Regions from separate parts of the Homo sapiens genome. Here all the other regions are linked to region 1. The links come from fine-mapping of genetic effects on gene expression. A gene starts in region 1. Each other region holds a variant in brackets. All regions are shown on one strand. Distances are between the middles of the regions.

Region 1 (4,247 bases):
GCGAAGCATGACAGCAAAATACACAGACACACACACACACTCACTCACTCCTTAAACTGAAGGAACTGCATCAAAAAGTATTTGCAAAACAAACCGAAAAAGAAAAAAACCCATCAAACTTCTTTGAACATGTGTTACTGCAAATCAGGTCCTTAGTTACAGAAGATACTCCTTCCATCATTTAAGACCAAGGGGGCCTCCTTTGAATCAAGCATTTTTGCGGGTCTGCTATGGCCTTAAATCAAATAATAACCTTTTAAAATTCACATAATGTAGGTTATCTAGGCTATTGCTTAGATTTAGTAGAAGTATAGGGTAATGGTTAAGAGTTTCAAATGTCAGAGACCCTCGGGGGCTCCTGACATTTTGGGGTCAGCTGTGTCAATTATTATCTGTGTGTCCTTCAGCAGTCACTTAACCTATCTAGGACCAACATTTTGGTACTTCATCTGCAAAACGAGAATAACTGCATCCTCCTCAGAGGGTTGCTGTGAGGACTACTGTGTGTCTGGAACACAGTTAAGTAATTTCACTACAAAAAAAAAAAATTAAATAGCATCATCTTTGACTATTCAAAACACATCACTTTTCAGCCAAAGACAAAGAGCAAATAACTGGAGTAGGAAACAAAATAAACGAAAGCAATAGGCCAAGTGATATACTTCCAAATTTTCTGGATAATTAAAGACCGACGCCTTGACTTCATAAAGAAGTACTGTACTCAATTTTCTAGAAAATGCTTAGAATTGCTTCAAGAATAAAAGTGAGCTAGATGTTAGGAGGTCGGATTCCTAGTCGTGAGTATAGTCCTATCTACCTATTTGACTACTGATAATTTATTTGACCTTTTTATCTATTCACACATCTAGTAATATCATATTCTGCTGTAATTTCTCTCCATCTATGCGTCTCCTCAGTCCTCCACCCCTTATGTAGGCAACGTCTCTAAGGCAAGATCCATACCTCCAGCATCTTTGCATCTCCACCGCCCAGCTCGCCATAAGTTCCCAACAAATAATGAATTGGTATCGCTTTACCTATAAGGGATTTATCCTAATCTAGTTCTAGTAATTTGTAAAATTCCAGGGCAGAAATTCAGCAAAAGAGCGAGATCTTCTTTCATTAAATTCTGAATACTGTCAACTTATGGGATCGATCCTTAAATCCACAATCTACGACTCATTTGTCCGTATGCAGAAATGCCGGTTTCCTTTGTGTCCCGTGGACCTTTTGTCTACTAGAAAAGGCAGATATTGCCTCATTTTGATAAAATGTCCATTCTACGGTTTAAAAGGTTAGCTTTTCTCTTAAGTCTCTTAGGTTTGATTCATCAAATCATCCAGTGAACAGCAGGCGCTCCAATGTTCACCTCTGCTGTGTAGGAACCAAACCCGACCTTCCCGGCCCCGCCTCCGACTGTCTCTAACTACGCGGTATCTCACCTCGTGGTCGCCGCAAGCCTCGGGCTCCGGGTGTACAGCGAACCCAAAGAGGACCTGCTCGTAGCAACCAGCGACCAGCTCCATTCAGCAGCGCACGTGCCTCTTCCGCCAGCCCGGCTCAGCCTGGAGGTGACAGAACCGGAAACCAAAAAAAAAAAAAAAAAAACACCTGACTCCTTTCTGCATCGGCGCTCGAATTATACGTCAGGCTCCAGGGCTGCCTTTAAGTCGCCTGTAACGTGGAAACACTTTAAGCGCGGGGAGGTCACATGGATTTTCCAAGAAGAGAATAAGTAAAGATGCCACATGAGGAGGTTCTCACTGCAAGGAGAAAAAAATCGGGGGCAAGCAGGCATATCTCAGGAAGGTGCCAGCTACGCCCGTCTGAAGGGAGCGGGCGGGACATCCTCTGCGAAGCCCTTCATTTCCGTGACATCAGGAGGAGGTGGGGCCGACTTCCGGCCGGTTGCTTAGGGGCTGTAGCGCCGGCAGCGTGCATTGTTGTGGGCTGTGTACTAGTAGGGTAGGAGTTTTTGTTCAGGGACCAGCGGAACGAGGCTTTCTGTCGTTAATAGGGTAAGGAGGGGTGGGATTAGGGTTCGCGGTGACTTGTTCCAGCGGCGCAGCGCTCGCGCTGCCTTGACGGACTCGGAGTGCTAGATGTGTCCGCGTTCCCGTCTGCCCGGGCCAGAACCCCAGCCCTGCACACTTTCTCTGTCTGCTTGTCTAACTCTGGGGCTGTATTGGCCAAGGTTGCGGCACCTCCTGGGGAGGGAGCAGTGAGCCTTCATTTTTTTTTTTTTTTTTTTGAGACGGAGTTTCGCTCTTTTTGCCCAGGCTGGAGTCCGGTGGCGCGATTTCGGCTCACCGCAACCTCTGCCTCCCGGGTTCAAGCAATTCTCCTGCCTCAGCCTCCCGAGTAGCTGGGATTACAGGCATACGCCACCACGCCTGGCTAATTTTGTATTTTTTAGTAGAGACAGGGTTTCTCCATGTTGGCTAGGCTGGTTTTGAACTCCCGACCGCAGGTGATCCGCTTGCCTCGACCTCCCAAAGTTGCTGGGATTGCAGGCGTGAGCCACAGCGCCCGGCCAGAGCCTTCATTTGAGAGTTGGGAAAACAAAGTGAGCCTGAGCAACATATTTTGATGCCGTCTCTACAAAAATGTTATAAATTAGCCCAGCATGGCGACGCCCGCCTGTGGCCTCAGCAACTCGGAAGGCTGAGGTGGGAGGATTGCTTGAGCCCAGGAGGTCGAGGCTGCAGTGAGCCGAGATCGCTCCACTGCATTCCAGTCTGGGGGACGAGCCAGGCCCCCTTTCAAAGAAAAAAAAAGTTTTATTTAATAAGGTTTAGAGATTCAGGTATGTCTTAGACATTACAGCTTTCCTACAAGCTCCCAACAGAGTAAATCTTGGTTCGTATAGTTCTCATAAACACCGTAGTAGGTCATTTGGTAAACAAGATGCATAGTCCATCCTTCTCAAATCTTCAGCCTCCATTTCAAGTGCGATACAGTGCTTCAGCGCTTAGACCCTTTTGTTTCCAATAACTTTTCTTCTCTGGTGTTCTGAATTGTTAGTACGTGTTAATAGAGGCTAGTTTGGGTCTTGCAGAAATGATTTCATTTGGGATGCTTTGGTTGTCACTGCAGTGCAGAAAAGACCTTGTTATTGTTAGAAATAGATAATTGGTGACACGAAGAAAAGTCAGCATGGAGACAAAAGATCTCTCAGCAAGGCAATTTTTACTTTATGCAGAAAGGGTGCTCAATTGCAGATGGAACGATGGTGAGAGCACTCCTGAACAAAGGAAAAGCAGACATATTTGTCCCTTACGCCTTTGGGTTGTCCTTACTGCTGTGTCCTGCATCCGTTGGCTGGGGCTGGACCTCATAATCTTAAACTGATACCCGATTTGCTAAACAGGCTGTGAGCTGGAACGTGCCTGGGCCTGTGAGCATGTCCCGCAGTTACATACAATAGGGCTTAACAGAGTTATTAGCACAAAGCAAGGAGGCTTGAAGTAAGTTAGTCTTTAAAAGAAACTATTGTTTCTAACATTTATGATTTATTCTTTAACAAGAAGGGAAACTTTGAAGAGGCAACTTTTTACTTTCTACGTCATCTGCCAGCTTTGTCCACGCCAAATGTAAACACTTCTCAAGACACTGAAATGCTGTTGACAAACTAATTCTCAGTCTAGTGGAAATCCTTGTATTCATTCACTCTTCCAAAATCTTTCTTGGCTGGGCACGGTGGCTCACTCCTGTAATCCCAGCACTTTGCGAGGCCTAGGCAGGCGGATTGCTTGAGGTCAGGACTCTGTCTCAAAAAATAAAATAAAATGGCCAGACGCAGTGGCTCACGCATGCCTGTAATCCCAGCACTTTGACGAGATCAAGAGATCGAGACCATCCTGGCCAACATGGTGAAACCCCGTCTCTACTAAAAATACAAAAATTAGCTGGGTGTGGTGGTGGGCGCCTATAGTCCCAGCTACTCGGGAGGGTGAGGCGGGAGAATCGCTTGAATTAGGGAGGTGGAGATTGCAGTGAGCCGAGATCCCGCCACTGCACTCCAGCGTGGGCAAGAGTGAGACTGTCTCAAAAAAAAAGTCATTCTTTCTTTACTTTGTGCTAGTTATCTTCATTGTGTTACAAAAAATCAAATTATTTTAGGATTTAGAATAGATTACTTTTTTTGTAATGTGTAAGTTTCCACCAGAGAACCACTAAGATTAGAGGAGTGTGAAGTAAGTGTCCTCTGGACGTGAGACAAGGTATTAGTAAGCAGGACATTGTAA
Region 2 (4,247 bases), 570 kb after region 1:
TACCCATGCAATTACTTTTCTCAAATCAGAATGTGATAATACTTTGCTTTTCTTCCTTTAAATGCTATTTAAGAAATTAAATATATGACATTTTTTGCAGCTGTTTTCTGCGTCTAGGTATTATTTGCATTGGAAATGTCATACAATAACTTTTTCAGAAGCAAAGTTTTCTTCAGAAACAAACACCTTTATGTTAAGACCTCTGCAGATCAGTCTTAGTTTAAAGCTTATGTTATTATAAAAAAAATACAGTTTAGGCCGGGTGTGGTGGCTCACGCCTGTAATCCCAGCACTTTGGGAAGCTAAGGCGGGCAGATCACGAGGTCAGCAGATTGAGACCATCCTGGCCAACATGGTGAAACCCCGTCTCTACTAAATATACAAAAATTAGCTGGGCATGGTGCGTGCACCTGTAGTCCCAGCTACTGGGGAGGCTGGGGCAGGAGAATCGCTTGAACCCAGGAGCTGGACATTGCAGTGAGCTGAGATCACGCCACCGCACTCCAGCCTGGTGACAGAGAGAGACTCCGCCTCAAACAAAACAAAACAAAACAAAACAATTTAGAGTAGCATTTTAAAATGAAAGTATTTTAAACAAAGATTTAAGATGATTTTTGCCCTCTGCCTTCCAGTCTGTGAATTCACATTCCTAAGAAATCCTTAGTCCTCGATCTTGGTATGTCCCTCTCAGTCACATATTGTAAGAAGGTGGATAAGGGCAAGCATGGTCATTTATATTGCTGAAGTTCAGGGTTGAATACATACAGATCAAATCCACCCTAAAATAAGTAGAAAACAGCAAGGCAGCCATTTGTGAAGCTAATTAAGTGGCACATTTTTTTTTAGCTTATGCTTGTTAAAAAACTATGTGCTATTTTATGAAACCAAGGCTGAAAGTGATACATACCATTGAGGGTAACACTTTTTGGACTTATTGCTATTGTTATTATATTTGAGCAATGAAGAGCATTTGGGTATAATTTAGGGCTATTTACCTTCACCCTTCTTAATATCTGTAGTCTACCCAGCTATCTCCACAACTCTTTAGCTGTCTCTGGCTTAACCATCACCATGTAGTGCACCAAAAGACTTGTGCAAGACTATTTACAGTAGCATTATTCCTCACAGCTTCAAACTGGAAACAACTGAAAAGTCCACTCACCGTTGACTGGATAAATTGTGGTAGATTCACATCATGGAATGAAAAGAACAAAACCCATTATATAAAGTGACACGGATAAATCACAGTCAATGTGATAAGTAAAAGAAGCTGGTGACAAGAGTGTAGGAACTGCAAGATTCCATTTCTATGAAGCTTAAAAGTAGCCCAAACTAATGTAAGATAATAGCATAAGTAATCCGTGCTTTAAAAATTTTAAAAACATTTTTAATGTTTTGATTGACACATAATAACTGTACATGTTTATAGGGTACATAGTGATGCTGTAGTACATATAATGTCTGATGATCAAATCAGGGTGATTAGTATGGTGGTTGGACAATTTTTTCACTTACTTTTCTAGGAAAGTACCTCTGTGTACATAGGATAACACACTATTATCAAACTCTATCTAACTTTGCTAATCTCATAGGTTAAACAAATTAAGTTCTTTTAGTTAAGTTCTAATTTTTATTTCTTATTATGAATGAAGTTGAACATCTTTCCATGTGACTAAAAGACCTTTTTAGTTCCTTTTTCTGTGAAACTCCCATATGTATATGTGTGTTTTTGTGCATACACACTCATATACATATATGTAAATATGTACAATATATGTATGTTTGTGAATATGTATCTTTTTGCTTAGTTTTTCTGTTTCTTTTATGGATATGTCAGAACTGTTTATTTATTATAGCCATCGGCCTGTGTTTGTGATATTAATTGCATTCCCTACTCCTCC[C/T]TCACCCCCAGTTTTGTAATTTGTCTTTTGATTTTGTTACAGGGCTTATTTCCAGTCAGGAAAGTTTTATTTTTATACATTTCAATGAATGTTCTATTGCTTTTGAATTTTAGGTCATATTTAGAGGGACCTTCCCTAGTCCATTATTATAAAACCTTGCTCTTAGGTTGATGGTTTTATATTGTACGGTTTAAACCTCTGTCCATTTGGAATTTATTTTGATATAAGTTGGGAGATAGCTATTTTCCCAACTCCGTTCTTTCCACAGGGTTTCCGGTTGTTCACAAACTATTTTCTGAATTATTTATTGTCTGCTTATAAGTTTGGAATGCCAACTTTTGTGTATATTGGATCCACTTCTGAGCTTTTTATCCTGTTTGCAATATTTATCCACTTGAATTATTATAGCCTATTGAAATTTAAGTTAGACTTGATCACCCCTTTATTATTCTTCATTCACAGAATTTGCCTCAAAAATTCCCATTTTTCTTTTTATTTAAATTTAAAACATATTTTCTTCAAATTTTTTCCACAAATACAATTTTCTGGAATTTTTATGAAGATTGTGTTTAATTTATTATGTCAGGAAGAACAAATATATTTTTGGTGTTGGCTGCTGCTATCCTAAAACAAGCTTCTTTATTTAAATGTTCTTCCATGTCCCTCAATAGCATTTAAAAGTTTTCTTCTTATGCTAATTTTTTATTGGTGAAAAAAGTCTATTGTTCCTATGTATTTTATTCTTTTATTGCTATAATAAATGTTTCTTCCCCCTTCAGTTCATATTCTTATTGGTTGTTTGTTTTTATATAGGAAGGAGAATGATTTTGTACTGGAGGCACCTTCCTAAATTTTTTTGTCATTGTGGTTTTTCAATTGTTTCTCCTATGTGTTTAGAGGTAAATATTGTCTTTAAATAATAAACGCAGTGGCTAGTACTTTCAGAACAATGTGGACTAACAGTGATGATGAGGACATGTGTGTCTTGTTCCTGTCTTTAGTAAGACTGCATCTAATGTTTCTGCATTAAGCATGATTGGACAATATCTCTTAGGTGATATGTAATGCTTCATTTCCATCATTTTCTAAATATTCCATAATTTCGGGTTTGATCTTATTCTTTTCTGAGTTGTTTACTAGAGAGTTTTAATATTTCAGATGATGGTTTGTTTTCTAGTGAGTTTTATTTCTAAATTCTCTTATATAGTATGCCAAGCTATCTGTTATTGTTTCTTTTTAATTATTTCATCTCATGCTCTGCTTTCTTTGCTTCTTATAATAATTTTAAAAGTTTTAATTTTTATCCTAGTGATTATTTAATAACTATAACATTATATAATACACTTAATCTTCTGTTCTTCAAGAGAGTATCTATCAACTCTCTAATACAAGCAATTGAAAATTAATTTGTTTGTCTTACATACTTCCTCCTATCATCCAATTTTAATTGTTTATATTATTTAAAAAATTATATTTATATCTCTAAGTGCAGTTATTGCTTTGTTATTTGATATGTCAGGTTTAAATTGCCTCATTTGACCCCAGGCTATTAAAACAATTTTTTAAGAAGAAATAAGCAAAACTATATTCCTTTTTACTTTTTTTCCTCCCATCTCAACTTAAAAAAAATCATACTGGCTGGGCACAGTGGCTCACCAGCATTTTGGGAGGTGAAGCGGCTCACTTGGCATTTTTGGAGGCCACGGTGGGGGATTGGTTGACCTCAGAGGTTTGAGACCAACCTGGGCAACAAAGTGAGACCACGTTTCTTAAAAAAAAAAAAAAGAAAAAGAAAAAATTATTTAAAAATATAATTTCTACATTGTCAGAGTTGAAAGTTATAAAAGTCTATTCTTTAATTTACAAGTCTCATATTCGTTCAAGTTTTGGTCACACAGCTCCATCGTTTAAAACCCTCCGTGCCAGTCCTTTAGCCATAGTGACTCCATTTCTTTCTTGGTTGTCTGAAGTTACTTTTCTGATAGTTTCTTAATAAAGCTACTGAGATTTAAAATCTTGTTGTATCTGAAAAAGTGATTGGTAAATAACAGTCTGTCTGGGTTTAAACCTCAGTCACGTGTTCTTTCCTAGAGGGTCTCGCAGGCACTGCTCCTCTGTCTTCTGGCGTTGATTTTTCTGAACTTTGAGACTAGCATTTTTTTCTTCCTCTAAATACTTGATCTTTTGTCTGGATCCCCAGATTATTCTTTTTTTGCCTCTGAAGTTTAGTAACTTTCTGGGATGTCTCAAAGAGAATATTTTGATTTTTCTTTTTCTTTTTTTTTTTTTTCGAGACAGTCTTGCTCTGTTGTCCAGGCTGGAGTGCAGTGGCACAATCTCGGCTCA
Region 3 (4,247 bases), 980 kb after region 1:
TGACTTAACTTATTTAGGCTTTAGTTCAGCCTCCGGAGAAGGGAATGCTGAGGGAATATAATAAGGCCTTCTCCAACAGTGACATGATATGATGGATGCATGTTTCTTTGATATTTTCATGATAATGACTCCCTGAAAAGGTGACTATTAAGTCTTAGAAAGCCTCAGAAGTCACTGAGGATATCCATGCTCAAAAACTTGCTGATGAGTGGGATATGGTAGAAAAGAAAATAATAAGTACCTAAATAAAATAATTAGTTATAGATGATTATAATGAAAAAAGCACCTTAATTTTTTAAAAATGCTACAACCAGAGTATGTTTGGTTATGCCAAAAGAAAGGAATATGGAAATTTTTAGTGCCATCTATTGGTAGTGATTTTTAAATAAGAATTATTATGCATAATTGATGAGTGGTGGCTCTTTGTTTTATCCAAATTCCTAATTCCTAAGGATTCTTGTTAACTGTGGAAGAGAGTAGTTTAAGAATGCATTCTCTTTTTTATGCATTCTCTTTTATTTTTTCCAAAGCAATTTTGGTCTTTTTTTATTATGATTACATGGATGGATCATAGAAATCTTGTTTGATTTCAGGTCTTTATTAGGAGTGGGCATGGAAGGTGGATATATGTGTGTCATTTGAAATGTGGCTAAAGTTCAGAGAAATAGGTTTCATTTAATAGCTGAATACTGGATGACCTTACCATTCTTCTCACCCTCTGGCAGCTCACCCTGTGAGCAACAGAGGAGATGTCCGCATGAACTGAGAAGTAGCTGCTGGCCTCAATGTGATTTTGCAGTGATCTGTGTGCTCTATGGCTTCCTTCATAACCAACAAATCAATTCCCACTATACATATTACACACCCCAGTGGCAGAGGCCATTTATTATCCTTTTGATGGTCATACTCTTTGTACATAACCAAGAAAGATTACAGAGGAAGGCAAAGAACAGTTGCAATATGGATGAAGACATTCCACAATGACACTGCATTTTATCATGTGCCTTGCATATCTATAAGGATACAAAAGATGTTCTCTTTCAAGACAGTTTTGAAACATGGAAGCAAAATTCTTTTTAATGAAAAATATTTCAAGAATTATAAGTGAAGAGAAAGTTGTAGAGATAATTCTACAACAATTCTAAATTGTATACATTTAGATTTCAAGGGCAAATTTGAAATGATTAAAAGACTGTCATATTTTGTTTCTGTGTGGGCATTGTTAATAACACTATACTTGACTAGTTTTGCTCAATTAGCTTTTGATATAGCCTTTTATTTGGCATCATTCAGTATCAACTGATTGTTTTGTTAATTTCTAATTTGCAGTATATAAATTTCTAAACTCTCAATTATCGATTCAGGGATTTTCCTGATTCTTTGAATCCACATATATCTAATAATAGTTACCATTATTAGATAAATCAAAATCAAATCCTGACTTGTAGTGACTAGGTATAAAATAATTGAATATTTTGAATTAGAGCTAAGTGGTTCCTAATGAAATTTTAGTGTTATTTGTCCTAAATCAAAAGTCTGGTAAAAAAAAAAAAAAAAGCACATATATCTTAATGTGCATAGGAAACATTTTATTAGTAAAACTAATGGTAAAAGACTCACTTTATAGTGGGTTCTGTGCATACGCCACTTAAACTGCTTAGTCATTTATGTCAATGGATATGAAAAGAACAGTGGAAATTTCCAAAGGTCAAAGAAGCTACTGTCTTTTCTGTTTTGCATCATTTGAGACTTTCCAGGTTTTTTTTTTTTTTTTTTTT[C/TC]AAACAACACAATGCCAAATCTGCATTTGATTTTCCCTTCCCTTTGAAGAGGCAAAACAATGACAGAGTAATTAACCGAGGAGGAGATCATGTACAGGGTATTTTGCTTTAGCAGTGTGGAAAGTTCTGCATTTCATTTCACATGGTGGTAAATGGAGTGAGGTATTCTGAAATCCCTTCTACAAGAGAGTTAGCCCCTGACTACGTTACTGTATATAAACCAAACTTTCTTGGGGTCTGTTTCCTGTTTAACTGTTCCTCATTTTTGTAATGGAAAAGAATGCTCAATGCAAAGACTGCATCTTGCTTTCCATTAGGTGAGGGGCTACACCTTCATGGAGAAACACACAGAAGAACAACAAAAAGGAATTGTCAGTATCAGGTTTGGTGCCTCACTAGTTCTGTGCAGACCAAAAGGCTGTAGTCATGGTCTGGAATGCTAAGAGGGAATAGTAGATTTACTTGTTGTTTTTTCTTTCTTTCTTTTTTCCCCACTGTTGTTTTCATGATTTATCCTCTCTTCCCATGTTATGTCATCACATTTGATAATCTTCGGAGAGCAATGAGCTTTTGTATGTAACATCTTTTGAATATGTCCATGAATTCCATTTCTGTGCTGTCCCCAGCACTGCTCTGACTTGCTGTGGTTTGTCATTAAGTCACTGAACTGCTTAGTCTGTTACTAGTTTCTCCTTTGGTAACATGTTTATTATTAGGACTATTTTTCATTGAGGAATCTACTATCTCATTCTGGAAAATCTTTCTAGAATAAAATTAGGCATACTAATCCAGGAATTTACAGTCTAGTTATTATAAAGATCAATTACTGGTTTAATAAAACACGTGGTATATACCCATGCGATTTACTGCTTTAATTAAATAACAAATATTTGCATATCCATATATACCTTTAAAAATAAAAGGAATCATATCATCATTTAGATAGGTTTTCTACATTTCTTGGGCTCAATGGAAGCCCAGACTAGTTCAAAGTAGGACTGGGAAATATTAGAAAAGGAGAAAGAAAGAGAAGCAACAGAGTATGTGTTCATTGTTTTGTGAATGTACCACAGTGATAATGTGGTTCAAATTGTTTGATATCTGACCCTGAGGTCTGGGTGCTATTACAAACTTCTTTTTCCAAGTGAGGAAACTAAGGCATAGAGAATAATTATATCCAGGCTGTCAGCTCCCAGAGATTTTAGTCGCAACACTGTGGTAACTCTGTTGTATGCTACCTCCACAAATTGTTTGGACTGAGTAGAAAATGCTTTCTGATTGTTCAGTAATTTTCAGATGGCCTCTTCATCTTTTCTCTTGCAAAAACTATAATTTTAGAAACTTTGACATCTCTTGTCCTTAATGCCAAATATAGAGAAGAGATCAGAGCTGAATCAGAATACTTTGTATGAGATCCTTTTATATTTTGTTTCAACCAAAAATATCAGTATTGTGTTATGGAATGAAAAAGTTCTTAAGTTTTGGATTTGTATTCATAGATTTTTAGTGGCATACTGATAATTTCAATTTTTAAAATGAAAATTGATCTTTAAAAAGTCACATGCAAATAATTTAATCTTCATGTAGAGAGATCATTGTGGGTAAGTGAGATAAGCAGGAATGTATTTTAGATTTTAAAGATAAAAAGTAAATTTACCATTTACAATAATTTATTTTCATGTTTATTATAAAAAACTGTTCAATTATGGTAAAATCCTCATAACATAAAACTTACCATCTTAGCCATTTTTAAGTTACAGTTCAGTGGTAAGTACATTCCCGTTGTTGTGCAACAAATCTGACTTTTTTTATCTTGAAAAACTGAAATTCTATACTATTAGCAACTCCTCATTTCCCCTCTCCTGCACACCTGCCAACCACGATTCTACTTTCTGTTTCTATGATTTTGACTATTTCAGATACCTCCTCCTGTAAGTAAAATCATAAGTATGTGTTCTTTTGTGACTGGCTTATCTTTCTTAGCACAGTGTCCACAGGGTTCATCCATGTAGCATCCATGTTGTAGAATTTCCTTCTTTGTTAAAGCTGAGTAATATCCCATTGTATGTATATATATATATATATATATATATATATATATATATATATATATACACCACATTTTGTTTATCCATTCATCGACCAATGGACATTTATATTGTTTTCACATCTTGGCTATTGTGAATAATGCTGTTATAATCATGGGTACACAAATATCACTTCTGGACCCTGCTTTCAATTCTTTTGGATATATATCCAAAGGTGGAATTGCTGAATCATATAGTCATTCTATTTTTAATTTTTTGAGAACATACCATACTTTTTTCCATGGTGGTTGAACCATTTTACTTTCCTGCCAATAGTACACAAAGGTTTTAATTTCTTCACATCCTTCCAAACACTTATTGCACATGCGTGTGTGTCTGTGTGTGTGTGTTTATGGTAGGCATTTTAACAGATGTGAGGTGG

Which allele goes with the higher level. Positions count from the first base shown, and alleles are read on the strand shown. Sizes are in standard deviations (SD) of each study's normalised expression. Not every link is listed here.
For the expression in CD4 T cells of the gene that starts at base 1,896 in region 1, C is the low allele of the variant in region 3 and TC is the other (moderate effect, 0.62 SD a copy in BLUEPRINT).

Evidence for each region.
Region 2: its variant is fine-mapped to the expression of C6orf52 in visceral fat (GTEx, PIP 0.98).
Region 3: its variant is fine-mapped to the expression of C6orf52 in CD4 T cells (BLUEPRINT, PIP 0.95).

What each region holds. Positions count from the first base shown.
Region 1 is chr6:10,692,265-10,696,511 of GRCh38, reverse strand. It overlaps C6orf52 (chromosome 6 open reading frame 52), which reads left to right and starts at 1,896. Exons shown (of 5, transcript NM_001145020.3): 1 at 1,896-2,018. PAK1IP1 (PAK1 interacting protein 1) reads right to left here and starts at 1,540. Exons shown (of 10, transcript NM_017906.3): 1 at 1,443-1,540. The coding sequence starts at 1,526. RefSeq lists enhancers at 1,513-1,892, 1,322-1,924, 1,933-1,982.
Region 2 is chr6:10,119,886-10,124,132 of GRCh38, reverse strand. The region is part of intron 1 of LOC124900218 (a long non-coding RNA gene); the gene reads left to right. It also overlaps the pseudogene OFCC1. Among named protein-coding and RNA genes, the nearest start is that of TFAP2A-AS2, 280 kb to the left of the region's middle. The variant C/T (reference allele first, on the strand shown) is at 1,902.
Region 3 is chr6:9,708,208-9,712,454 of GRCh38, reverse strand. It overlaps the pseudogene OFCC1. Among named protein-coding and RNA genes, the nearest start is that of TFAP2A-AS2, 690 kb to the left of the region's middle. The variant C/TC (reference allele first, on the strand shown) is at 1,779.